Linked DNA regions of Homo sapiens: all the other regions are reported to be linked to region 4. Evidence: microRNA targets listed by miRTarBase, many of them from high-throughput screens and not tested one by one. Region 4 holds a microRNA gene; each other region holds the end of a gene's coding sequence.

What was found. Region 4 holds the annotated microRNA hsa-miR-181a-5p (AACAUUCAACGCUGUCGGUGAGU, at 3,166-3,188, shown strand). A microRNA usually pairs through its seed, bases 2 to 8, with sites in the 3' UTR of a target mRNA and lowers its output. Matches are read on the target gene's strand: a 7mer-m8 pairs with bases 2 to 8, a 7mer-A1 pairs with bases 2 to 7 and ends in A, and an 8mer does both.
Region 1: miRTarBase lists PCDHA7 as a target of hsa-miR-181a-5p. Seed matches in the 3' UTR shown: 7mer-m8 at 4,249-4,255 and 8mer at 4,200-4,207.
Region 2: miRTarBase lists PNRC2 as a target of hsa-miR-181a-5p. Seed matches in the 3' UTR shown: 8mer at 2,202-2,209 and 7mer-m8 at 2,871-2,877.
Region 3: miRTarBase lists CIAO2A as a target of hsa-miR-181a-5p. The part of its 3' UTR that is shown has no 7-base or 8-base seed match.

What each region holds. Positions count from the first base shown.
Region 1 is chr5:141,008,544-141,015,666 of GRCh38, reverse strand. It overlaps PCDHA7 (protocadherin alpha 7), which reads right to left. Exons shown (of 4, transcript NM_018910.3): 4 at 3,320-6,040. The coding sequence ends at 5,730. PCDHA1 (protocadherin alpha 1) reads right to left here. Exons shown (of 4, transcript NM_018900.4): 4 at 3,320-6,040. The coding sequence ends at 5,730. It overlaps PCDHA2 (protocadherin alpha 2), which reads right to left. Exons shown (of 4, transcript NM_018905.3): 4 at 3,320-6,040. The coding sequence ends at 5,730. It overlaps PCDHA3 (protocadherin alpha 3), which reads right to left. Exons shown (of 4, transcript NM_018906.3): 4 at 3,320-6,040. The coding sequence ends at 5,730. It also overlaps PCDHA4, PCDHA5, PCDHA6, PCDHA8, PCDHA9 and PCDHA10, and 7 more genes. Among named protein-coding and RNA genes, the nearest start is that of PCDHB1, 39 kb to the left of the region's middle.
Region 2 is chr1:23,960,532-23,967,654 of GRCh38, forward strand. It overlaps PNRC2 (proline rich nuclear receptor coactivator 2), which reads left to right. Exons shown (of 3, transcript NM_017761.4): 2 at 398-603; 3 at 909-2,931. The coding sequence starts at 927. The coding sequence ends at 1,346. SRSF10 (serine and arginine rich splicing factor 10) reads right to left here. Exons shown (of 6, transcript NM_054016.4): 6 at 3,816-7,123. Among named protein-coding and RNA genes, the nearest start is that of PNRC2, 4.3 kb to the left of the region's middle.
Region 3 is chr15:64,066,221-64,073,343 of GRCh38, forward strand. It overlaps CIAO2A (cytosolic iron-sulfur assembly component 2A), which reads right to left. Exons shown (of 5, transcript NM_032231.7): 5 at 6,345-6,808. The coding sequence ends at 6,711. Among named protein-coding and RNA genes, the nearest start is that of DAPK2, 23 kb to the left of the region's middle.
Region 4 is chr9:124,689,315-124,696,437 of GRCh38, forward strand. MIR181A2 (microRNA 181a-2) reads left to right here and starts at 3,128; the gene lies at 3,128-3,237. The region is part of intron 2 of NR6A1 (nuclear receptor subfamily 6 group A member 1); the gene reads right to left. All of the region lies in intron 1 of MIR181A2HG (MIR181A2 host gene), which reads left to right. It overlaps MIR181B2 (microRNA 181b-2), which reads left to right and starts at 4,396; the gene lies at 4,396-4,484. RefSeq lists an enhancer at 5,708-6,253.

The sequences.
Region 1 (7,123 bases), not on the chromosome of region 4:
TGGGCGCGGTGGCTCATGCCTGTAATCCTAGCACTTTGGGAGGCCGAGGCGGGCAGATCACCTGAGGTCAGGAGTTCGAGACCAGCCTGGCCAACATGGTGAAACCCTGTCTCTACTAAAAATACAAAAGAAATTATCTGGGCCTGGTGGCACACGCCTGTAGTCCCAGCTACTTGGGAGGCTGAGGCAGGAGAATTGCTTGAACCCGGGAGGCAGAGGTTGCAGTGAGCTGAGATCGCACCACTGCACTCTAGCCTAGGCAACAGAGTGAGATCCTGTCTCAAAGAAAAAAAAGGAAAACAATTATTTTTAAAACTATGTGTATGTGATATAAATGTGTGTGTATAGAGAAAAATGCAGAGAAACACATTTGAAATTGTTAAAATTGGATACCCATGTAAGAGAGAATTGAAAGAAGATGGTGAGATTAATAATTTTTCTTTATATATCTCTGGTTTATTTGATTTATTTTAAAGAACACGTATTACCTTTTATAATAAAAATTCAATTTCACATAAAACTAAATAAAGTAAGTCTAGTGAAAGCAAACTCTAAAACGAGAACTGTTGTGTCAGTCTCCCATATATTTATGCTTCGGGTGCCAATTGTTTTAGCTCTGCTCTAAGACCAGCTACTGGCTGAGTGGTTGTCTGACTTGCTCATGTTCTTTGTGGATTGATGATCCCCAAGTCACCCGACAATTGTGTAACCTAACAAAATGCTGGACTTTATGTTTTTCACTACCTACTCTTTCTTATTTCTTTATGCAAACTAGACTCATATTATGAAAGTAAATTTACTAGTGTCCAGCTCAGAGGAGCTTAAGTTCAAAGACAAGGTGATAGACTTTATTAGGCAAAAAACTTTTAAGATTTCATACGTCAGCAGGCATTTCCCAATGGATCAACCCCAAGAGAAAATGGGACCCAGCAAACATTTTACCTGACTGATTATAACAAAAAGGTTGCTATGTACCACTCTTAGGCACAGTTTCAAAAGGAGGACAGCACCATGCTCATTTGCTAAAGCCCCCTCCTAGTTACAGTAAGAACCTCTGTGCATGTGCATGTGTGTCAGCATGTGTGCGTGTGCATGTGTGTGCACGCGTGTGTGCACGTATGACTGTGCGCACGCGTGTGTGTGTGCGCGTGTGTGTGTGTGTGTGCATAAAGCCAGAAGAAATTTCTCAGGTTGCAAGTTGTGTCCTGCCAGCCAACAGTCAAGGTAATTTTGAGGGAAATAACATAATCAGCTTTTTCTACAAGGAAAGGAAGCACATGAAAATATGATGAAATAGGTCAAAGAGTGGCCAACTTATTTCCATTTCCATTTCCTGGAAAAGCTCCAGGGACTGAAAGTCTTGAGGAACTGTATCTGTAGTTTTGTTTGTTTACTTGTTTTATTGTATCTCTTAATGTTTGCATGGTTTTTAAATCTAGATTTAACAGTAAAATTGCATTAGTGTTTGGTCAGTTACATTTGTACTTTAGATTGGGGTTTATAACAAACATAATGTTTATAATTTAAACGTAAAATACATTAACATGAGATCCTGGCACTTACAATCTTACCTAGGAGCCTAAAATTCAAAGCCAAGGCTCTAGACACTCATTGGAGAATCTCATCCTTTAAAATTAGATCAATTGCAATATTTCTAAAGAATGAATCCTGCACTCTGTATATGTGAGACTTATATCAAGTAGCCTGACCCTTGAGAGAGATGCACCTGTCTTGTCCTTTATTGCCTGTGAAATCCCAGGCAAGTCTGTGGGTAATTTGGCATTTCTGTTTTGCTCATCTGCCGAAAGAAGTTGTTGGAGGTGACTCTTCTCTTTCTCTCTCAAGCTGTTGTACTTCAAACCCTTTGGTTTCTGGCTTTCAGATCACCAATAATTGAGGTGAAATAGCTGCAAACAGACTGGCCACTTGACTACTTAGGGATTTGATTATTATTATGATAGAAATAGGTAAGGAGTTATGAAACTGACTTTATTTCTTTTCCTCCTGGGGTGAGCAAAAGAGCGGAGGAGTAAATAAAATATTTTTATTGCCAAGACTATGTTGATTTTTTTGGCCATCCCTCATTCACATTTTAGTCAGTAGGAAAAGTTCCCTGGGTCTAATAGCTAAATCTCTGAAAAGGGGGTAAGGAAATGGAAGAAAAGGATTAATAAATAATAATATTTATTGAGTACTATGGTGTGCCAGACCTGCTAAAACCTTTTAAGATTACCTCACAAATCTATAAGGTCTGTATTATAATTATGACCAGTTTAGAGATGACTGAAAAACTGAGAGAAGTAGTGGTTTGCCTCAAATTCCCCATCTAGTTAGTGGCACAGCTATACCAGTTTATTTATAGAGTCCCTATAAATCCCAGTTAGCCTGGGACAGTCCCAGTTTACATCTTGAATCCTGAAGTAATAACGAATGGTGTCTCCTGTTCCATTTCAAAAGTGGACTACACAAATTATATGGTCACTCTATCTCAAGGTTTCTCAATCTTGATTTGAGACATTGACATGTTGGGCTGTAAGATCCTTTGTTATAGGGGGCTGTCCTGTGCATTGCCAGGTGTTTCACAGCATCGTTGCCCCCTACCCAGTAGATGCCAATAGCACCCTCCACTTCAAGTAATGAAAAGCAACAATGACTTCAGACGTTGCCAAATGTCCCCAGGAGGGCAAAATTGCTCCTAACTGAGAACCTACAGCATCTAAAGCTTATATTTATACAAATTTAACTACAAAAGGACAAAACAATCTATTTGTCACAGCTGAACCTATGCAGTAGTGTGGCTGGCATACACCCTGTACTCAATAAAAGTTATTTCTTTTTGTACAGATGGGATCTCGCTATGCTGCCCAGGCTGATCTTGAACTCCTGGCCTCAAGCCATCCTCTGGCCTTGGCCTTCCAAAGTTCTGAGATTACAGGCAAGAGCCACTATCCCTGACCTAAAAGTTCATTTCTTTGGGGTGTCACTTGGCTTTCCAATTGTAGAGAGGTGCAAGGGCTAAACAAGTAATGAAAAAGATGCCTAGAAGGGCTCTTGTGATAAAAATGGGTTTGTTGCAATTCTTATTAGAGAAAACTGAAATAGTGTAACTACAAAGTGACGCAGCAACCTCCTGGCTGCCCATTCTAATGATATGAAGTTTGAATCTTGATTCCACTGGGGCTTTTGCCTTAGTAATGGACATAAAAGCTAACGTGATAAGAGAGTGTTACAGTGAGTTTCATACTGCAGCAATCTTCTTCAGTATTAATTGCTTATCAGTGTTCTATTTCCTCCTATTCTTAGAAATGACCACCATTTCTTTCATACCACCATTTTCATTTATTAGCAATAACAGAGGAAATACCAATAGCACCAATTCAAAATGAATCCACATGACGTGTTTTATCCTTACAGCTGTAATAACTAGTAACTAACATGGATTGGAAAGCACTTCGCAAATGTAAAAAGTGCTGTACAGATACATTATAATTATCATCATTAATAAATTAGCCCGATTCTCCTAGTTCAAAAGGCACGTAAGGTCAGATACATGGGCTTCAGTGGGGCAAAATGATCACAACCTACAATGTAGCAATGGTTCACATGTGTTGGTAACAAGTTTTACCCCATGCAATCCTGCAGAGCTGAAGTTACACACCCTTCAAAATATGGGAGAATGAAGCTAAAAGTAGACAAGACAGTTTTTTTTTAAATTTAATGCTTTTTTTAAATAACAGACTCCTACCTCTTTTATATTAATGCCTAAATAGATAATATAATTAATCAAACTTCTAAATTGTACATTATAACAAAATTAAAATGTCTTATTTAAGGTGACAGCAAATTTTGTTACTTTCTATGAGCTGATATTTCAGATACCATTAGAATTTCAAAGCATTCTGCAACTTCAAAGAGGTCAGATTGGTAAAATTTGTGCTTGCACACCCTCATGGAATATTGTCAGTATTCATTCCAAAATTGTTACTAGAACAAAACAGCTTTATCCATTCCCTTGCCAGCAGAAGTCTTGGCACGAGATGGCTCTTGGCTGGACCATAAATAAAATTCCTTGAATCACCAGTATCTTGATTTAAGAAAGAAATTTTACTGTGTCTTTCATACACAAAAGCTGATTAACAATGGTTAAAAAAACACTACTCCACTTTTTCACAGGTGTACAAAAGGAAATATAATGGAATTACATTCAACAATAAAGCTTAAAGTTCACTCTAGGTAATAGTTGCATTAACATTCACATACACAAGCACAGAGTAAGTATATTTCAGGAGTCTTAGCATAGCATACAGCATACATATGGGAGATTGATTTCAGGTAACATCATAGGTGTTAGTAAGATTAGCAATTCAGAGTGTTATAGAAAAGGAAAACTAAACCAAAGAGAAGGTGTAGGCTAGCACACCAAGACAAGTCACAGAATTAGTAGATTGAAAAATCTGCTCACTGTATGAGAAAACAATATTTTTCTTCAATTTTTGGGTCTTGATATATAGTTGGTTAGAGAAGGTTGTGTATCAAAGTGCACATAATTGTTTCTTAGAAAAGAGAGAGAGAGAGAGAAAGAGAGATCATTTTATTTAGTAATACATGCAAGAGGCAGCCCCAGAGTGACCTGAAAGAGTAAAGCTGTGATTGGCAGGTGGCCGATATAATACAGATGTTTCAGGCAATTCTCTTAAAGCACTTCTGTAGCAGCAATGATCATTTAAATGGCTGTAGACTGAATTCTCTTTTGAGGAGAGTTTAGGGGAATTGTATTCATATTTCTCTTTAAAGATTTATAGCTATAGACTTTCTCTTTTTTTAAATAAATCTATGAAACAACAAACAGCGAAAGGTGAGGTGTCGGGGTTTTCTTTTGCTTTTGCATAAGTATTGGAAAAGGATCTGGCCTTTTCATAAACATTGTGTGCAAAAGAATTTTTAATAAAGTGAGCACAGGACATGTATAGGAAACACATCAGATCTGCTTCTGTTTCCCAGGGTGGTTCTCTGTTAAAACACTGAACTGTTGGCTTGCAGGTATGATGCAGATTTTAGGTATAATGACGTCACAGCCAACAGACTTTAGGGTCTCCTAAAGCCTTGTCAGTGGGGGTAGTTTTGTCTCCTAGAGGGTGGCTGCCACCTCTTGAGTTGTAAGATTTAGAAAGTCTGGTCCCTTTAAGTTTACACTTCCCCTCCATACTGATAACTTCCGCTGTTTATTTGTCTTTGTTTTCTTGCCTTCCTTGTACCAATTAGTCTAAGCTGGCTCGTCTCAGCCAATATCTGGCACTCGCATACCCGCGGTAGCCACACATACCCAGTGGCCACAAACTCCCAAGCTGCTCAATCTCAAAACTTTTCAGCCTGCCCTGCAAGTGTCATCAAGACAGGATCCCCGGAGCACAGGGCAGAGAGTCCAACCTCTCACTGGCGGGGCTGGGAAGCCTCTCCTTTGCGGCGGAGGAGAAAGGAAACTTGGGTCTGCTTTTTAGGTTCTGAAAACAAGCCAGAGTGGAGAGAAAGAGTTAACACCAGACTTAGTAAAGCTTTTACGACAAAACCTGTTAAATGCGTTCTAGACAGACACAGGGAACTTTCTGCAGATTTCTGAGGTCTCTAAGAGGGCTCATGTAGATAGGAAAAAGGAGCAGGGAATTGCTACATGGGAGAGATTTGCCATTATTACAAAAACTGGCTAAGTGGCTTGTTTCCATTTGAGGACCTCACTGGTCACTGTTGTCAGTCGTGCTGTTCCCTTTCTCTTTTTTCTCCTGGGTCTTGTTACCCTTCTTCTTTTTCTTCTTTTTCTTGGTCTCCTCCTTTTTGCCGAAGGTTATGAAGTCACTTTTGTCAATTTGGCTGTTAGTAGGCTCCTGCCGGATGGAGATGATTGCAGGAGATCCTGGGATAATGAATTTGTCGGGCAACTCACCGGGACCGGATTGTTTGGGGTTGCCTGGTCCGTATTTAAAGGTCCAGCTGTTGCTGTTGACACCCGCACCGACTGGAGGGGACACTTCTCCTGCCTCTGGTTCTGAAAGACAAAACATTACAAATCATTAACAGGGTCAACACATGCTCTTGATGCCACACTGCTGGTAGAGTACAGGAGTACTGCATAGGCAGGCTGAACCTCCCCAGAAAAATCACGAGTTGTTTGTTCAAGTCTGAGGGCAAGGCAAGTGTTTACTTATTTATTTATTTGTTTAATTTTTTTGAGACAGGATTTCCCTCTGTCACCCAGGCTGAAATGCAGTCACTGCAGCCTCGACCTCCTGTGCTCAATCAATCCTCCCATCTTAGCCTCCCAAGTAGCTGGAACTACAGGCACAAGCTCCCATGCCAGGCTAGCTTTTTAAAAAAAATTTTATAGAAATGGGATCTCACTATGTTGCCCAGGCTGGTCTCAAACACTGAAGCTCAAGAGATCCTCCCACCTTGGCCTCCCAAAGTGTTGGAATCATAGACATGAGCTACCACACCCAGCCAAGGCCAGTATTTACAGACAAGCAAGAGGGCAGGTTTTTTCACCAGGATACCAAGAATCTAGTTTCATAGTAACATATGTTTGGTTCTTTGTGAAGAATTTCCTAAAGAATACAGTTGTGATTATCTTGACTGGGAACGGGATGGGAAATACAGAGCCTAAAGGCAAAATATGCTCCTTTTAGTGTCTAGATTAAACTTTGGCTATAAATGTATTAGGATGTCTATTTTGTCCAAAACAAGAAAAATTAGCTGAATAAATTATTTGATCTTAATTTTATTGTAATAACATTGAAGGGTGGTGGGATGCAGCATGGAAGAGATGGGAATACACAGCGTAAGAGGATGGAATCCTGTTGTAAATTGAGCCTATTTGTTTAGATAAAACACTGGGAGCCAATTTTACTTTCCAAGCCAAATTCCTTCCCTCAGTGTGCTCACAGTCTAGTTGGACATACACTCAAGCAACTAGAAACCAACTTAATACATGCAATAACTAAAGTATATGTAAAGTATTGTGGGACTCCAGAAGAAGAAATTGTTAATTATACTTGAGAAAGTTAATGGGGTTCCAGAGGAGGTGAAATCTGCCCTGAGTCTTGGGAAAATGATTATGCATCCACAGGAGTTT
Region 2 (7,123 bases), not on the chromosome of region 4:
TGGAAAGATTGGAAAATTCTGGTGGGAGTTTAAAAACACGGTCTCTTTAGAAAATCCGCCTGAAGCCAATTTTTTGATATGACTCAACATTTAACACTTCCTTGATTTTATACGCGAGAGAATCTGAAGGTCTTTCCCAGGAAAAAGATAAAGATAAAACTTATTGCGGGACTTGGAGACACTTACAAAAATTCCCCAGGAGTGACTGGATCTCAAGGGTGAAGAGTTTTTTTAAATGGTCGTGGTTATAAGGTCAAAGAAAGCCATCTTACGAGAAATTTTCTACCTTTTAGTTCAGGAAGTAGCCTTCTTTACAGTCAACGATTTTCGTAGTAAATCTAAATGATCACTTTCTCAACGTGTTTTTGAAATAATGAAGTAATCTTTACTTTTCTAGCTAGGACTTCTCTCAAACTTGTGTGCTGAGGAGACTCAGATGTTGGCCTCAGCTCCTAGGCTGAACTCAGCAGATCGGCCCATGAAAACTTCTGTATTGAGACAAAGGAAGGGATCTGTCAGAAAGCAACACTTGTTATCTTGGGCTTGGCAGCAAGGAAGAGGACAGGTAGTGGAGATCCTGCAATCTGAAAAGCAGACTGAAAGGTAATCATCATAATGGGCAAACATTTTATGATGGAACCATCCTAAACCAATTGTTTTTATTTTAAAATAGATTATGTAGATTTGTGGGTAAGCTCATTTTTCTTAGGGAAGGTATAACAATAAAGGTTGTGCATATATTGAAGTCTGAACGGCTTGCTTTTTTGAGTTTAAAGCAGCTGAATAGCCTGTTATTGAGTCTTGTCCAAAATATCTGGAGTTATAAGTTGGAGCCATAGAAGCTTCTTAAAGATTTTGAACTTTTCTTAATGGAATTTTACTCAATATTTGTTTCCATTCACTTGTAGGTGACAAAGAAGCTGAAGATGGGTGGTGGAGAGAGGTATAACATTCCAGCCCCTCAATCTAGAAATGTTAGTAAGAACCAACAACAGCTTAACAGACAGAAGACCAAGGAACAGAATTCCCAGATGAAGATTGTTCATAAGAAAAAAGAAAGAGGACATGGTTATAACTCATCAGCAGCTGCCTGGCAGGCCATGCAAAATGGGGGGAAGAACAAAAATTTTCCAAATAATCAAAGTTGGAATTCTAGCTTATCAGGTCCCAGGTTACTTTTTAAATCTCAAGCTAATCAGAACTATGCTGGTGCCAAATTTAGTGAGCCGCCATCACCAAGTGTTCTTCCCAAACCACCAAGCCACTGGGTCCCTGTTTCCTTTAATCCTTCAGATAAGGAAATAATGACATTTCAACTTAAAACCTTACTTAAAGTACAGGTATAAAATAAGACAAATGTTTAAATTTAGTTATGTTCACGGATAGTTGTCAATTGGTCTGAAACAAATTCGCTAGGGAATCTATTTGTGTAGAACTAATTAATGTAAAAAAAATAGACCATCTCGTGTTGTGTGCACTGTGATATAATGGTAGTATCAGTGCAACTTAAACTAATGATTGTACTTGATATTAAGTGTTCTCAACTGAGTAACTTTTAAGTGGAAACCAAGTTTAGATTTGGGGAGTGGTAAAGGAATCAGCTTTTTCTATTGTTAGGGGAAGACAGTAATTTATCATTCATGGACCAGTAGATTGTTGAAAGTTGGTGAATCGGATTATAAGCTTCTAGCTAACACAAGGATTCAGAATTAGGTAAACATCTGAAGGTTTAGTATATTAGAAACACCCAAACCAGTAATATGCTAACCTGATGCACTGCTGAAAGAAAATGTGAATTTTTCGTAATAATTGCATTTTAGTGAATTGTACAGTGGGTGGAAAGGGCATTTGGAGCTCATTAGAATGAGACATAGTACACCCCAATGGCCCTGTTTATTAAATGTAGTGGATTAAGTGTCTGTCAACAAATACACCAAAACCATTTTTTATAGAAACAGTATTTAATGGTCACTCAATAGCTTTCAAAATACATTTTTGTATTACAGCACTGCACAAGCTATTCTAATAGTGCTCTGGCCTCATCATTCCTGCAAAGCTTGCTTTGGGGAGTTGGATAATGTGAAAATTTTAAGTACCTAGGGGAGAAAGAGCCATGTAAATATCTGTAATAAACTTGTAGCATATGTAAAGTTTTCTTGGCCTTTATCTTACAAAAATGGAGTATTTTAGTATGAATTTGCTGAATGTAAGACCGTGGACTGTTTTTTATAATATGGCCTAATTTTAAAGGTCCAAAATAACTTGTTTTTAAAGTTTGCCCTTGTGCTAAAGTGCCAGTGTATGTATGTTATACTTGATTTGGTTGTAAACTATATTTCAAAGTAAACCCTAGTGTAATAAGTTTTATAACTAAAAAGGTTTAAGCTGCTAAAACTATTTTTAAGAGATGTGAAATGCAGTATGGGACTATCTTTTTTTCCTCCTCTAAGCCCAAAGATTAACTAGAGTCCCTCCAACCTTATAGATTGTTGGCTTTCACAATCTTATAACCTAGGATACAGGTAGTTTCGAGTATGGTGCCAGTGATGTTTTGTTTTTGTTTGGTCAAGGGGTAGGTGCAACCCAATGGACCACTTATGCAAAAGATGTAAACTCTTGCATAATACATTGATAACATGTTTTGCCAACTTTAAATGCTTAAACATAAGCGAAACCAGTAGCAAGTATGTGGGTCAGCTTAAAAATTTTGATTGTTAATGCCCTATTTTCTAATTTGGCACCTCTTGATGCCTAAGCAGGTAAGCAGATGCCTAAGCTGTATTTCTCCAAATAAATCAAGATGAAGTACTGCCCAAGTTAAATATTGATAGCCTAAAGACAAGTTTATGTAGTACTTAATGTACATGATATGAATGTGAAGCATAAAATTAAATAAAATTTTTCCCCATTGGCTTGGTTTTATTTTAAAAATGGTTTTGATTGCTTAATATTCTTTTTAAAAATGTGTTTTACTTGTCACTGACTTGAAGCTCATAATACACTCACAATATTCCAAACTCTTGGATTTCTCAGACTCCAGAACTATGAACCACTACATTTCTGATCATATATATATACGTATATATAAAAAAGGTCACAACTAAAATGTGATAGGACTGTTGGCTTGAAAAGGGGCAACTAGTTTGCTGACTGATACAGAAGATACTAGGATTTGACAGCTATGCAGTTAAGCAACTACTTAGGATTTCTCTCTCCCAGTAGTGTTAATTAAAAAGCAAAAAAAAGGCCACACATGGAAAACATCGCAAAGCTTTTGAAAGTTAATTCCATGATCTAGGTTCATAGAAAAAAAATTATAAGCAAATTTATCAAGTTGACAAGAACCCTTGTGTTTTAAGTATGTTGACAAATGAAAAGTATATAAGGGGACCCCTCAGAAGAAAAGCATCACAACCACACCTTTCTGATACAGATTCCAAATGATAGGGCATCTTAAAACTAGTTTGAGTAATCCTTAAAATGCTACAACTAGTCCCATGGCAAAGCTGTATTATTTTCATGCAAACTAGTTAACAATTTGGAGTTAAGGCAGAACCAGCATTTGGGTGTTCATTTTGTTTCCAGGGTAATTTCTGTGAACAATGCCAAGGATTGCAGAATTGAACTTCATGTATTGGACAAATCTCAGCCTAGGTGTCTGTTAGTTTTTAAGCTATATATTGAATCTAGTGTATATATTGAATACACTAGATTTTTAGTGACTAATCTAGTAATACACTAGATTTTTGGTTTGACTCAAGCAAAATGAGTAAATGGAAGTGGGAGTGGAAGATTACCTAACTTCATACTTTAGGAAAGGTACTGATAAAAGTTTTGGTTAGCCTATATAGAGAATGGTGATAGGAATTTCCCAAGTCGATGCAATTGCGAGAACCAAAAATAGCTGGTACAGAGAACTTACCATGTAAGGCTGCTGAAGTCAGCCATACTGTGAACCTTAGGTAAATGCTGTAATTTCAATTTGTCTTCTTTTCGATGGCAGTTATACTATGATGGAATCCAGGTCCAAAACCTATCCTTAAGCTTAAAATAAATACTAATAAACTATCCTCTTCCCTAGAACTACAACACAGGAAAAAACCTGAAAGGTTTTGTGTAAGTTTCAGTTTCTAGTATTTTGGTTGCATTCTTGTAGGCAATTTGTAAAGCAAGAGGGACAGAGTGCATCTCTAAAACCTCTTACACAAATTAGGAAAAAGTTGTACCCAGGTGGTTACAAATCTAAGAGCAAAATCTTAAAAAAACCCAAGATTTATTTTTGGCTCCTAGACCAGTTTATTTCACTTTCCAGCATTCAAAGAAATGTGATCTGCAAAAAACTAGATACAAAGGCCTTTTACTTCTTTACAAACTACGGTTAGTTCTCAATGAATTTACATGCCTCACTTTTTATTCCAAGAAAAATCCCCATTATGCAATACAAGGGTGAAACAGCTGTTACAAATACACAGAAACATAATAAAGATAACCAACACTGTTAAGAGGAAGGGGAAGAGGAAAAAACCCAAGAGAAGGAAACTTTTCCACAGTGACTAGCAGAATGTCTTGTAGATAGCAATAACCGAAGACAAACAGGTTGCTCACTTCATCCTATTTATCAAGTCATCCTATCTAAAATGAGAATAGTTCATGCCTAGGATAGGCTAACTATAGGCTTTGCTAGTCCTCCTTCCTAATAGAATGCCCTCAGATTATTCCTGAGCTATCACTCAAGTCACAGATACTTCAGAATATAATCTTAGGTTTTGTAAACAGGAACATGGTCAAAATGCAATACAATGGAAAATCTCTACAAGAGAATGAGATTTGGAAAGCCATGCTTAGAGTCTCTGAGCCACACAACCATAAGATCTTCGAGTACGTTTAATCTCTCATCCAGGAACATTATCCATTTACCTTGTAAGGTTGTGAGAAATGAATAGCATAATATGCAAGAAGCTATCACATGATGGGTATTCTACAAAGGACAATTTTCTCATCTGTAAAATGGGAATAATACCCATTTCCCAGGAGTGTTTTTAGGATTAAATAGAAATATTTGAAAAGCACATGGTTCGGCACAGTAAGTGCTCAATAATATTGACAGCATTCAGTATAGAGAGAAACAACCACAGAAGAGATCCTAAAGCAATTCATTCAACAGATGCAAAAATTAAAGGGCCTTTTCTGATTTACCATAATTAAATATTTTAGAGAACTACCAACTGTTGTTATTGTAGTTATATATGTATTTACCTAATTTTTTTTAAACAAAACCCCAACTCAATATGCACCTTAATTCTCCCCCTTAAATGTCTTAACTTCAAAAGGAAATGGAGAAGGGAGGTAGAGGGCAAAAAAGTCTATAGCCTCTACATATTCTTTTAAAAATACATAGAACCTCTGTCCATAAGAACCCCTATGTTAATGAGTGTATAACGGTATACAACAAAATACTTTTTGTAATTAAATCTAGTCACTTTGACTCTAAGTAAATTCTAGATCCCATTATATCAATGTTACTATCTCCATGAAAATAAAGCTATAAAAACACTTCCCCATTGGATTAAACAACAAACATGGTAACAAAAGATGAAACAAGTGAAAAATTATGGGCTGTAACCTAGGATCTGACACTTGCTGTGTGATCTTGGGCAAGTTCAAACAAAATTTCTAAAATAAAATACAAACAATAATACCTCCATTTCACACCTCCCTTGAAAATATACCTCTGCTATATTTTCAAAATTGCTACAAATTAAAAGCTTAAATTCCACTTCCAGATTTTTAGTTAATTTTATATGGAAAATTTTAAGTATGTGGCAAAAAAGATGACAAAAATCAAATGTGATGAAATCAATGTATAGGTAAAGAAACATCATATCCTAATAAGAAACTAAGGAATCCAAAACATTTTGTGATACTATAAAAGTTATTTATTCGCTATACACAGAACATGTCCCCTATAAAATGTACATGTAAATCACTAAAAAGTATAATTTGGTGAACATTTTCTCAATTACAGAACATACTAAATCAGTTAGGATAACAGCTCTCTGTCTGCCTCAAAATAATCTAATTATAGCACCCAGTCTCCTTTATACCTAATGCAAAGTTAAATACTTATTTTGGGGGTTATATCCTAGCATGTGTTTGGTGAGGCAGAGTAAACAATTTATTATAACTCTAGTATATTACAGTCACTGCACAATAAACCAGTTTATTACAGATTAAATCATTTTTTCATTATTTATAATAATGTGATCAAATACTGGATACTTTTAAATGGCAGATAACCACACAATTACTTATCCTTGATCGTATATTGTGTTCTATAATTACATTGATACGAATGGTGTAAAATATTGTTATGAATAACACACCTCAAACAAAACAATGAGGCCATACTGTAATGATTCACTAGATTGTGCTCAGTAGACATTTACTGAATAAGGGAATTATCTATTTTTCTCAATTATCCAGTACAATGATTTGCCCACAGTAAGGGCTCAATAAATATTTGCTGAATATACTGACTAGGAAAGAGGTGAGAAGAGATGGGCCCTCTTAGCTGGATGTCAAATATAATTGGAATTTACCTGGGAAGGAGTAGTTAAGACAGATGTAAACTGCATGTGGTGTACAAGTAAATAAACACAGATGCCAACAAAGCAAATGATTAAGCAGAAAACACTGGCACCAAAATAAACAAAGGCAAGATTTGCCAATAATGGCAAAAATGGAACTTTTATATTGGACCATACCTTTTCCCACCCAATTCAGTTTGAGACAGACCAACAGAGGCACTGTAAGAGACTATGGCTGTCTTCCTTGATATTCAGACATCCTAGTTTCCAATAATTTATTATGGACCTGTTACCCATGAATCAATATAAACCTATTCATATTTAGGGATTAGTTTCCACAAGTACAAAGTTGAATTTCCTTTTATTTGTCCTAAAATGCTTACTTTCAAACTTGAAGGGACTTCAATTATTCCATGTAGTTTTCGATAACATTCTTTTATCTTTTCAGACCAGAGTCAAAATATTCGTACAGTATTCATACTGCAGCACCTTCCACCCACCCTTTGGTCGCTTGAACTGCCCTTCTTTGGTTCTTT
Region 3 (7,123 bases), not on the chromosome of region 4:
TGAACCCAGGAGGCGGATGTTGCAGTTAGTGGAGATTGCACCACTGCACTCCAGCCTGGGCGACAGAGCAAGACTCCGTCTCAAAAAAAAAAAAGAAAGAAATGAATAAAAATATAAAAATCTCAGCTACTTGGGAGGCTGAAATGGGAGAACCACTTGAGCCCAGGAGTTCAAGACCAGCCTGGGCAACATAGCAAGACCTGATCTCTACAAAAAACAAACACACAAAAATTAGCTGGGTGTGGTGGCTTGCACCTGTAGTCCCAGCTATTCAGGAGGCTGAGACAGGAGGATTGCTTGAGCCCAAGAGTTAGAGGCTACAGTGAGCTATTATCTTGCCACTGCACCCCAGCCTGGGCAACAGAGCAAGATCCTGGTATCTTAAACAAACAAAAAACTGCAGATGACTAACATGTTGTTAGTCATTAAGTTGCACATTTTTCATGATAAAAAATGATGCTGTGATCGTCATATCATTCATGACATAGGGTCAAACATGTTTACACAACAAGAAAATAGGAAATATATTTGCAGTATATGTGACAGAAAATGCTAATATTTGTATTGTATAATTAGCTTTTTAAAACATTAACATTCCAGTAGAGGCCAGGCACAGTGGCTCACACCTGTTATCCCAGCGCTTCGGGAGGCTAAGGCTGGAGGATTGCTTGAGCCTAGGAGTTTGAGGCTGCAGTGAGTATGAAAGCACCACCGCACTCCAGCCTGGATGACAGAGAAAGACTCTTATCTCAAAAAAAAAAAATTCTACATGTTTAACCTTACAAATAGATGCTAATGAAAAACCTTTTCAAAATCCTCCACCTTGGGCAAATATTTTTTAAAATAATAATACCCAATATTACTGTAGAACAGGAACACCTACCCCACTCTTGGTTGGGTGTCAATTGGTACAATTTCTCCAGAGGCCAATTCAACAATATGTATCAAAGCCTCAAAATCATTCATAATCTTTGGCAAAGAGTTCCATATCTAAGAAAGTCTTCAGTGATGGGCCATGTGCCGAGGCTCACACCTGTAATCCCAGCACTTTGAGAGGCCGAGGCAGGCAGATCACTAGGTCAGGAGATGGAGGCCATCCTGGCTAACACAGTGAAACCCCGTCTCTGCTAAAAATACAAAAAATTAGCTGGACGTGGTGGCATGAACCTGTGATCCCAGCTACTCAGGAGGCTGAGGCAGGAGAATCGGTTGAACCTGGGAGGTGAAGGTTGCAGTGAGCTGAGATCACATCACTGCACTCCAGCCTGGGTGACAGAGCAAGACTCCCTCTCAAAAAAAAAAAAGTCTTCAGTGATAATCACTCCAGTCAGAACAAAGGCACAGGCTGCAATAAGTCCATGGTGGTCTGGTACCACTTAGTGCAGCCCGGTTAGAGGGGCAGTGAGTGTGCCCTCAGGGCCTTTGGGAAAACCCAGGGCAGCTGATGCCAAGTGGGTATGCTCTGTCACTAAGAAATAATGCTTTGCTGCCATCTGGTGTTCTCCCAGATAATCGCACCCACCCCAGAGGAAAAACTCTCCAAGTTAGCACCGAGCAGCCCTTTCCTCTATTCTCCCCTACCCCGGAAGATGCGGGTCTCGCTCTGCCACCCAGGAGGGAGTGCAGTGGCGCAATCAGGGTTCACTGCAGCCTCAATATCCTGGCCTCAAGCGATCCTTCCATCTCAGCCCCCCAAGTAGCTGGAACTACAGGTGTGCACCACCACGCCCTGCTAATTTTTTGATTTTTTGTACAGACAGGGTCCCGCTATGTCGCCTAGGCTGGTCTCAAACTCTTGAGCTCTAGCCATCCGCCCACCTTGGCCTCCCAAATGTTGGGATTACAGGCGTGAGTCACTGCACCTGGCCTTCTCTATTTTTAACAAACCCTAATAAAGCATTTACTAGGTTCCAGGCGTTGTGCTCAGCACTTTACAAGCATTCCCTTTTTTAGTCCTCATAAGGGCCCCACGAAATAGGTAATTTTATCATCCCCATTTTACAAACGAGGGAACTAAAATACAGAGAAGCTAGGTAACTTGCCCAAAGTCACACAGCTACTAAGTGACTGAGTATTGGATTAGAACAAGATGGCAGTTTGGCACCAGTGTCTGTGCTCTTGACCACATCCTTTGTGAAGAGGATCCAGGGTCTGCATGGTGCTAACAGCACTTGGAGAGAACCTGACAGCCCATACAGCAACATCCTCTCCACATCCAGTACATCTGCCCCAAATAAGTCCATATCAGAACTGGGTTCGCTCATGCCCTATAGGCAGTCTAACCTGAGTCATGGACAACCACCAGTTCAGGCTAAATCCAATGAAGTTTTTTGGAAAAATCTTTACTTGTATTTCATATATACAAAAAGATATCAGAAATAATGTGGCTGAGCACAGCGACTCATGCCTTTAATCCCAGCACTTTGGGAGACCAAAGTGGGAGGATCGCTTGAGCCCAGGAGTTTGAGACCCCCTAGGCAATATAGTGAGACCTCATCTCTACAAGAAATTTAAAAATTAGCTAGCTTTGGTGGCGTGCATCTGTAGTCCCAGCTACCCGGGAGGCTGGGGCGGGTGGATAGCTTGAGCCTGGGAGATAGAGCCATGATCGTGTCACTGCACTCCAGCCCCGGTGACAGAGTGAGACCATGTCCCAGAAAAAAAAAAAAAAAGAGTATTAACAGTAGTGGTGCATCAGTAATGAGTTTGAACCCCAACAATTCACTGGCTTGTTTTCTACCATGGTATTAACACATGCAGAAAACCACCTGGGATATGAGTGCAATGAGACTTTTATAGCAATCCTACCCCTTCCTAGTAAACTGGCCCCCACTAACTACAGTTAATTGTGTCCTGCTGGACACATCTGCAGTTTTGGTAGCAGTTGCTTCATGGTGGAGCTGGGAAAGCTGCTTTTTTTTTTTCCTTTTTTTCTTCCTTTCTTTTATTTTTTTCTTTATTTTTTGAGACAGCATCTCACTCTGTTGCCAAGGCTGGAGTGCAGTGGCGCAATCTTGGCTCACTGCAACCTCCGCCCCCCAGGTTTAAGCAATTCTCTGCCTCAGCCTCCCGAGTAGCTGGGATTACAGGCACGTGACACCATGTCCAGCTAATTTTTGTATTTTTAGTAGAGATGGGGTTTCACCATCTTGGCCAGGCTGGTCTTGAACTCCTGACCTCGTGATCCACCCGCCTCGGCTCCCAGAGTGCTTGGATTACAGGCGTGAGCCGCTGCACCCAACCTAAGCCACCACGCCCGGCCATAAGCTTCTTATTTGTAACGGTCTAAGAAAGCAGTGGATAAATAATTAGTTGAGCGTGGTAGCTCTCATCTGTAGTCCCAGCTTCTTGGGAGGCTGAGGTGGGACAATTGCTTGAGCCCAGTAGTTTGAGGCTGCAGTGAGCCCTGATGGTGCCTTTTCACTCCAGCAGGGGCGACAGAGAGCGACCCTGTCTCAAAAGCAAAAACAAGAAGGTAGTGGCTCCTACTGGGGCTCAGAAAGCAATAACCCAAAATATGGCTCCTTGGTGTGCTGTGAATTAAAGAAGAATAGAAAGCCTCAGAAGCAGCCTCAAAAGCAAAGACTCTCTCTGACCATATCCTGCCCTGCTGTCTCCTGCCCCTTCCTCCTCCAAAGGGAGTCATAGAAAACAGAATCTGTCTTCCCCAAGGGAGGAAATAGAAACCAGAACCTCTTTTCAAAGCAAGCCATACCAGTCTGGGAAACATGGCAAAGTCCCATCTCTACAAAAAAATACAAAAAAAAATTTAGCTGGGCATGGTGGTATGCACCTGTGGTCCCAGCTACTTGGGAAGTTGGGGTGGGAGGATCACTTGAGCCTGAGAGGTTGAGGCTGCAGTGAGCCATGATTGTGCCACTGCACTCCAGCCTGGGCAACAGAGCAAGACCATCTCAAAAACAAAAACAGTAACAACAACAAAAAGCAAACCACAAAACCTAGAAATATTACTCTAACTTTCCCCCGCCTTTCTGTGCATGAGCTGGCCATAAAGAAATTCTCTGACCTGCCTTATCTAACAGTAGGTCATAAGACTGCCCCATACCCAGGAGGAAGGAATGCTACACAGAAAGGCCAAGAAGAATCTGAAGAGATAGTCCTTGCTGGGTTTCCCCACTTAGTCCATTACCATTAGATCGCACTTTTTGTCCAATCACATTTCTACACAATTGTCCACTCTTCGTCAAACCTAAGCAGAAAAATAAGACAGTTTTCCCTGGGTCTTTGGATTCTTCCTATCTGAAGCCTGCTGTGTCACATAAAACTTGGATTGACCACATTTGTTATGCTTTTCTCTTGTTACCCTGTCTTTTGTCACGGGGGTGTTGGCCATGACCTTTATGATGGGTGAGGAAAGGTATCACACCTTCTGCCCCTATACTCCCAAAGTTGTGAACCCTCAGGGCTCTGGGGGGTTATTAAAGGAGGGGGGAGCCCAGTGCTCAGCTAGCATTACTTGTAAAGCAGAGTTATTAACCCGGGGTCCACTGGCTCCTTAGCAAGTCTGTGAATGTCCTGGAGTCACATGCAGTTTCATGTGAGTGCCTTTTTCTCCCTAGGGAGAGGGCCCATTCCACATCTTTTATCTGATTTTCCAATTGGTCTGACTTTTCAGAAAGGATAATCATTCTTGTAAATCAGGAGTTTGCTAATGGCACACAGGCCAAATCCAGCCCAATGCTGGAATTTTGTACAACCCACAAGCTAAGATGGTTTTTATATTTTTAAACGGTTGAAAAAATTAAAAAGGAAAATATTAATTCATGACACATGAAAATTATATGAAATTCAAATTTGTGTCCATAAAGTTTTCTTGGAGTGCAATCATGCTTATTTGTTTACAGACTATCAGCTGCTTTTGTGCTACAAGGGCAGAGTTGAATAGTTACAACAGAGCATATGGCTTGAAAAGCCTAAAATATTGCCTATGTGGCCCTTTTCCAAAAACGTTTCCTAACCCTTGCCAAACATGGACCAGATAACACTACTTCTGACTATATATGTACCTCTATTTTTCACTTCTATGTAGATACCATTATGATTAATAAAGTTTAAATTCATGTTCTAATATAATTAATGCAGTAGATGTTAGTTTTTTGACCCCTCTCACTCTACTATAGAATTCCCACCATGTGAGTCTTGCTGGGGGGACAGAGTCCACCTCCCCACACCAAAGGTCAGATTTTCTTTTCTCCCGCCTTCTTGGCAGCCAGGACATGGACATGTGACTTGAGATCAGCCGACTAGAGATCTCAGCTAGGACTAGGAAGCTGGAGTGAGTCACACAAAAATGAGAAATCACTCTGGCAGTAGCGGAGACAACAGAAGTCACATCTAGCTTCCAGGAGCAGCAGGGCCAGCAGTTCAGGTGACTCCTGTAGCAATGATCCACTTGGAGTTGCATGTCAGTAGTGTCCTCACCAGACAGTCCCTAAGGCATGGTTTTGTCTTTGGACCTGCTGCCCGGCTTCTGTTTCTACTTGGCCAGGACGAGCTCAGGCAGTAGATAAAACTGAGTCCGAATCACTCACTGCCTGGAGCAGAGAGAAGCTGAAGGTCCAGGCTAATAAGTATGAACTCCAGGAGGACAGACAATGGCTGATGTATCTTTGTGTCCTTGGCACCCAAGACAGTGCCTGGGTCCAGACTTTGGGAGCTAGGCAGTTCTGCATCAGGAGTTCACTCACATGGTTTGCAAATTGCTGCTGGTTGTTGTTGGGAGGCCTCAGCTGCACTCCGTGTGGAATTCTCCACAGGGTGGCTTGAGTTCTCGTGACATAGCAGCTGGATTCCTACAGAATAAGCAATCCAAGAGCCTAAGGTGAAAACAGCAATACCTTTTATGATCTAGCCTCAGAAGTCACCCATTGTCACTCTGCCATTCTTTATTAGCCACACCCATCAGCTCCAATTCAATATGGAAGTTAACTATACAAGGGCATGAATACCAGGAAGTGAGGATCTTGGGGGCCATGTTGGAGGCTACTATACTTCACATGACCATTAACCCCTAAAACAAACCAAATGAAGGACAGATAAAGTGCGGACCATACATTTAGGTTGGTTTAATCAAAACTTCTTTGGTGGACTTCTTGATCTTCAAAATTGTGTATGCCATCTAGCCTTCTCCACATTTGTTCCTTATCTATGAAAGGGTCCAGGACTCTCCTTGGAAGGAAGGAAGGCCCAATCTTAAGGGTTCCTTTTGGTTCTCAGATCTCTGATTCTACAAAATAATCAGCAAAAATAAAGCTTTGAAGATATCCTTTAGGAGTTGACATTTACACTGGAATTTACAATTCAATAAAAACAGTGAGTCATTATAAGAATCATCTGCTTATTTATTTTACAGAGTAATGATTTAAATTGAGTACATTTGGGCACAGTAGATATTTGACACGAAAAATAGTTGTATCAGAATGAGCATCAGAAAAATAGCAACTCATCTTGCACATAATAACTAGAAAATATTATTCTGTCTGATCATTTAAGTGTTACAAATCCTGAGAATGTTATACATTGAACAAATTAGGTACTACCTTATAATTAAATCTCGCTTGGAAAGAATCCTTTAAAAAATACTCTGAGGTACAAATCACCTATGTATTAAACATGAGTCTCTGACATTATACAAAGAGTTTAAACAAATATATCAAACAATTACAGGCCAGTGGCTCTTAAAACAGCTATCAGTCAGGTTCAAGGACACACTGTTCCACAATTTCCCGTAAGTTGGGGTTTTCCATTGCAGCTGCCACTCGCTCTTTGTCATTTATCTGCTTATTGACTGAAAAATACACAGACAAAAGTTAGCAGAAGAACTGTGTCAATATACAGCACCAGACAGTATTTTTATTAGCCTGCTGAAACAAAAACTTTAACTCCTTGAGAACTTAAACCTGTTTTTGGCTAATTACTCATAATGTAATTTCCCATCTAGAAGGCAGACTTAAGAGAAAAATATCTACTAGAATTCTACTACTTAACCACATCTATTTTTTTCTTTCCAGTCTTTGTCCATACACATATTTTTATACAGTTACATTCAGAGTAAATATAATTTTGAAAATTGCTATTTTTTCCCCCATAAGCCTATATTTTA
Region 4 (7,123 bases):
CACGATTCTGGCTCCAAAATCTGCTCTTTACTATGCTGTAAATACTGCTTCTCCAAACATTTAATACATGAAATTTTTTAACTATGGTCATTTTAAAGGGAAAAAAAGCAAGAAGGCCAAAGAATCATCCAATTTGGAAAAGTTTATTATAATAAGGTATTTCATTTATTCTATTCTCGCACATATGAAACAAAAGCAATGGGAGACAAGAGAAGCAATTACATTTGCATGCTCTTTCAGATACATAACCTTATTGGATTTTCATGGCTGTGTGTGCAGGAAGGGCAAGTGCTATTTGTCTCACATTTTAAAGATGAGTTAACTGACACTCTGAGACATTAATCTCACTACTCACCATTACCTAAACATTTCTGCCTCTAAGATTTCCTGTACATGGTTTTCCATTGGAATTAGCCCCCTTTCTCTGTCTAGTAAAAATTCAACTAACCTTTTAAAGCTCAAACCAGGTTAACCTACTTAGATATACCTTTCCTGGCACTTGTAGGCAGAATTAACCCCTCTTTTCTCTGTTCTCCCTTAATATAGTTCACACCAATCCACCAGGCATCCTCTTTGTCATCAGTTATATTTACGTGTAGCTCCCTAGTCAGATAGTGGGCTCCAGGATGGCAAGGGTTTTATATACAGGAAAAACAATCCCTAGGATTCTACTGCCGAATCAGTAAAAGGATGAATCAGAAAACTAGCACAGTTTGGCAAAAAGAAACATGAATTCACACTGACATGCTGTTGTTATCTTCATAACTTAAGAATTTATCCTCACGGCTAGCAGCATTACCCCCAAACACTTATAGTGATGCTTCCTGCATGGTGCTTGGGAAACACCTAGGCAGACGGCACCTGAGACGATGACTCCTCTTCTATTAGCTACTAATCACTCAATTTTAGTTATGTGCTGCTGAAGCAAACATGCTACTAATCATCCAGATACATTGTTTTATTGAGTTTATGCTTATTTCTTCCAAGTATATCAAGAAGTCCCAGGAAGACTATGAAAACATTTACATCCCCATGTTGGAGACATGTGGGTTTCAATATTTCATGGTTTCTCTGGAATATTGGAAACCACCAATATTTCGTGGTTTCTCTGGAAAAGAAAGGAGGTATGTGAAATTAAGGAATGGCATGGTGAGTTCTAACAAACTCAAAACCAATCTAAATCAAGAGTTAAATAGTTGGATTGGCTTGTTAAATGTCAGCCTATAATTTTTTTTTTTAGAGACAGATTCTCACTCTGTCACCCAGGCTGGAGTGCAGTGGTGGATCACAACTCACTGTAACCTCAAACTCTTGGGCTTAAGGAATCCTCCCTCCTCAGCCTCCGAAAGTGCTGGGATTACATGTGCCACCCTGCCTGGTCACTCTTAGCTAATTTAACCCTTAACTTTTTTTAACCCTTAGACTTTATCCTTGCACCGAGTATATAAACCCCTTAGCCAAACTCACTTAAAAAACCCAAATGTGTGCTCAAACTTGCTTGATGATAAAAACTAAAGAACTTAAAGGAATGAGGATGATGAAGGCCATTATGCCATGATACACAATTATTTCAAATACAGTGGGCAACACCCCATGTCATTCCAGAAACCTACCTTTCTGTAGTTTTTCAAGTCTGTGAAAAGCATTCTTTTTAGAATGCTATGAATTTAAGGAATAATATTTTGTAAGCATCTAAAGGTTTGGTGAAGTCAAAATCAGTATTTTTTTTAAAGTCTAAATATTTATCCAAATAGTATAAGGCTTGACATCGCTTTATATTATTGGACCAAGAGGAAGACTTTTTAAAATAAACCCATTAAAAAGTTTTAAACATATTACACAGTTACAGTTGCCTGATTTTTTGTGTGTGTATACAATTTACTGTCATAACACTGAAAACTCAACAAAGCTGGCTAATGCAGAGTTTTGACAGAGGGTGAATTAAACTGATATAGAAGGTAAACAGTTTACATTCAAACCTAAATCTCAGTGGTTGATATTTTTTCTTTTAACGTGTACCATTTGGCTGCTTTAAAAATGAATTTGAGACCAGTCAGCCTTTAGTATTTAAACCTAAAGCAAATAGTAATAACTATCCCCATTTAGAGATTAACTTCAATTCAGCAGGCAGTTCTGTAAGCCCTTTTCCTATTAAGTATTCCTAGATCTGTCCCATTGTAAATCACATATTCTGAAGATTCATATTATTAATTCATTTTTCAAATTTTTCATCACAGACATTCAACAGAATCAAAAATAACCACTATGTCCTATAATGTACTGGTATCGTTTCAGCCAGAACAAATGACATCTGACATTTTAGTTACACTCTGTGTTCTCAACTAAGAAGAAATGCAAGCTTTACATTAGGTGGTGGGTTTTTGGTTTATTTTTTGCTTTTTCAATATGGAAAATAGCTTGTGGACTATCACTAACACCTCTGTGGTAACTTAGTAATGCAGGATCTCAGCAAAGGAGATCATCAATCATGGAGGTCGAGGTTTTTCATCTTCCCCTATGACCTCACCTATAGACCTACCTGCTATTATTATAGGCAAACAAGTAGAAGAAATTTACATGTTTGACTTTGGCTCTGCAGTGATGGGTCTACTCCTAGATATCAACAGTAAGTTCTGTAGTAGACAACAGAAGCAGTATGATGAGTGAGCACTGGAAACATGAAGTCCAGTATTCAAATTCTGGCTTATAACCTTGGCTCCTGGCAATGTAACTTTAGGCAAATCACTTCAAGTTTTTTCATCAGGAAAATGTGGGTTGTTGAGAATTTAATGAGATAAAATATACAAATCCTAGTATATAGCAGATCCCCAATATATGTTAATCTCTTACCCTTGTTAACAATTAAAATACTACTGCAAAATCAGGTATTTTACATTTTTAGAATCACAAAATAATACCATTCAAAGACATTTTCTCAGACATTCATTTGAGTCTGCTTGTACAAATTACTGCACAGTCTATCCCACAGTTCATTAGTTCTCTGCTGCACACAAATTGATTTTATAATTTAAATACTCTCGACTTGAAACCCAGAGAGGAATGTAAGAGCATCCATCAGCGGTGGTCTCACTGCTCACTGGTTCTTGGGATGTGGATGGGAGAATGAAGAAGGGCTATCAGGCCAGCCTTCAGAGGACTCCAAGGAACATTCAACGCTGTCGGTGAGTTTGGGATTTGAAAAAACCACTGACCGTTGACTGTACCTTGGGGTCCTTACAGACGACACTACATTTCCTGAAGCAAAAGAGCAAGCTGTACCTTCACATGTCACATGAGTTCACCAGAAATGGTCCTGCAATCCCCCAAATGTGGTCCAGTGAATTTTATTCCTACTGCTCACTGTTCCTTGCTTTCTGTTGTGTGTTTTATTATTATTTGTTTGTTTTTACAAAAAAAGTGTTTCATTTCAACAAGGTAAGGAGCAGTCCATGATGATATCTAATGTACCTACATGTCTCCTAGATATGCACCATTCTGGTGAGAAACAGGACGTAGCAAGTAAAAATTTATTAAAAATACGTATTTTGTTTTGGAATAAAATCCAGTTAAATAATTACTCCCATTTCTCCCACATCCTCTCAAAATTTTTAATTAGGGGCAAGGGGAGGATTTAATAAGCAAAAATAGCACAAAATTATCCAATTGTGACAGTTCTTATCACATTTCACTTTGAATTATAGTTAATATGGTTAATTTTTGATATCCCAGTTAGAGCATGAGCTATTGCCTTACTAGTGCCCACATATCCCCACATATGCTTATTTAAATGTTTGCTAAATTCAAGCAAAAACTTAGCCCTGGAGTCAGTCAGATCTGGGATGAATCTTGGCTCAAGCCCTTAACTAGTTATTTGACCCCCTAAGCAAGTGTCTCAGTTTTCTCACATATAAAACAGAGGCTAAGAGTACCTATCATGGAGTTTTGAGACTCAATGAGATAATATATAAGGTGCTTTGTACCATTACTAGCCCACAGCAAATGCTCAATATATGTAAGCTGTTATTATTAAACTCCAACATAATCTGCTAATTTACCTCAAAAAAGCACTCATACTTCTCAGTTCAAAACAAAGAGGAAAAGCAGGTCCCTCAGCTGTGGTTTACAGGTACTAATATGCAAGCACTGCCTGTGTGGCGCAGTGCTACCTGTGAGGTTCTCCAAGCACTCCTTCCTTCTCTGAACCACAGCTTCCTCATCTGCAATAACCTCCCAGCTCCAATGTCAATGTTATGGACACCTGTGTGGGCCCTCAATCATGCAGATGGCTGGTTACTAAGGGAGAAGCCAGACACACAGACTTCAAAGAACTGAGATGGAAAAGAAGAGCCAGGAGTCAGCCAGGGAGGGCAAAGGCAACCCCACCAACTGAAAACACTGATGGCTGCACTCAACATTCATTGCTGTCGGTGGGTTTGAGTCTGAATCAACTCACTGATCAATGAATGCAAACTGCGGACCAAACAACCCAAAGGAAGCAAAAGCATGTGCAGAGAGTCGCCTGAGTGCAGCAGCTACTGCTGTGAGTGGGAGCTGCTACTATTTCCAAAACACTAGCTAAAGCTTTTCTTGTTCTCCTTGGTTCTAACATGGAGTAAGTTCTCTAAATTCCTAGTACTTTTCTCCTTTTTCAATAGTCTAGATTTAAGGAAATGATATTTTATAGGAAGAATTAAATACATATCTGGATATCACATCACATTTTAAAAATCAGTACATTCAGAATTTCTAAACAGAATCATATGCTTATTATTTAGAAATTCAAATACAAAAATATACAAAGTAAAAATTGAAAATCCCTTCAATCATCATCTGCAATCCATTTCCTCGGAGGAAAACATGTATAATTATAATAAACTTATTAAGATAATAAATATCATAACTAGAATTTATTTTATATCCTTGAAGACCTTTATCCATACATACACAGATAAATAGCTGTAATTTTGCATGTTTTGGGGGGAGAGTGGCTTAGACAAAAATAAGCTCATTTTTACCTATTGTTCTATAATCTATTTTGTTATTCAGCTATATATCATAGACTTCCACAACAGTCTTTTATGTACTCGTCATTCTTTTAAATGGCTATATAGTATGACTTAATATGAATGTTCTGGTTATTATTCAGATGTACATCAATATTCTCTTTTGACAAAAACTATGAGGCTCATTCATTCTAACCTTTGCAAACCATGTCCCTCAAACAGGAAAAACACCTAAGTGAGATAGAAGATGTACATTTTTCTTAACAAAAAATTTAAATGTAGTATCAACTCTCTAAATCCTGTAACATGAGATAAGCCACTAAATCCCATGTTAAAGAAAGAAAAACAAGGCCCTTGGTCATGAATAATTTATCATACACTTAAGTCTAAGAAGAAGCAGATTCTCATAGCAAAAGTCAAATAAGACAGTAAGAGAAGAGTCTTGTCAAATTAGCCTTGACAATTAAGCAAGCCTTAATTTGACAAGGCTTTCCTGTCAAATTAGGAAGGAGAAGTGATGGGGTAATGAGACAAGAACCAGAAAGAGAAATCAAAGCCAAAAGAAAAATCTAAAGAAAACTATGAGAGTTCAGAGAAAATATCAGGTTCAAGCCAGTGTTTCCCAAACTTCTTGTACACCAGAATCATCTAGAGTTGCTTTTAAAATGGCAAATTCCTGAGCCCTACTCTAGACGAGGTGATTTTGGGTCACTGGAAGCTGGAAGCAAAGTAAATAAAGTTCACTAGCTTAACATCGGCTTCCTGCCCCCATCCCACCACCACATTTCATGTCATCCACTTTTCAACTATTGCCCAACCTTTTGTGTCACCACCTGAAATCGCCACTATTCTGCTGAGTGCAGACAGGTAGAGTCACATTTGTGCTGCTTTTAAGTATCTCCAGACTACATAAAATTTTGCACCATGTTTGGTGGCCAAATATACATCAAATTGTGTCTGATGTTTTATGGAAATGAATGGATTTGGATTTACGCTATCTAAAAAACTAAAACCTACCCAAAGAAATTACCAAAAGGTTTTTTTGTGTGTGTTTTTCTTTCGTTTGTTTGTTTTTTTGAGACAGTCTTGCTCTGTTTCCCAGGCTGGAGTACAGTGATGCGATCTCGGCTCACTGCAACCTCTGCTTCCTGGGTTCAAGTGATTCTCGTGCCTCAGCCTCTCAAGTAGCTGGCCCGCCACCACACCCAGTCAATTTTTGTGTTTTTAGAAGAAATGTGTTTTTAGTAGAGCCATGTTGGCCAGGCTGGTCTCAGACTCCTGACCTCAAGTGATCCGCCCGCCTCGGCCGCCCAAATTGCTGGGATTATAGGCATGAGTCACCGCGCCCGGCCCGAGGGGGTCTTTATAGAAGAGTTTTTTGTGAGACTGGTAGACACACAGAAGGTACTCCACGCAGTCTTGTTTTTCAAGATGCTGTGCATTCTAGGCATTTATTTTTAACCAATTATTTCCAAAATTTCTGAAAACATTAGAAAAGAATGTCTGACACGTACTTTGAAAAATGTACACTTGAACAAGCATGCTATTTATTTACAGACTATTACATAGTCTTTAAATATGCCAATGAAACAATTATATATTTCATTAAACCAAATCCAAGTTTTCTCTTGGATAAAACTAAGTACTACAAGAAGGGAGACAATTATGTAAGTTAAAGGGTGTTTTCTGCAGATAGGCCTCAAAATAAATACCTGTAACAGAAAAATTACATGGCATGTATAGGGGACAGGAAGAGAATAGTCCAGAGACTGTATTAGGGAGTCATAAGGAATGGCACTGAAAAGGTAAAAGGACATATTACAGAAGGACTTGTGAGCAAGGCGCAAAGTCAATTAGTCCAACAGAGAGCCGTTTTAAATGCTAAACTCAGCAAGGAGACAATGAAAGCAAGACTGGGAAGAGTCACTAAGCAGATGAAGTGAGGGGAAGAAAAGAGAAAAAAGAGAACTTTCTTGCACAAGTTAGCAGGGGTAGAACTGAGTCAACAGGAATGGAATGAAAGGAAAGGTTATCTCAAAAAGGCATACTTTGGCTTTTGTTTTTCAAAATAAAAGCCTACTGGCTGACCCCCTTCCATCATCCTGTTCGGTGTATAGCCT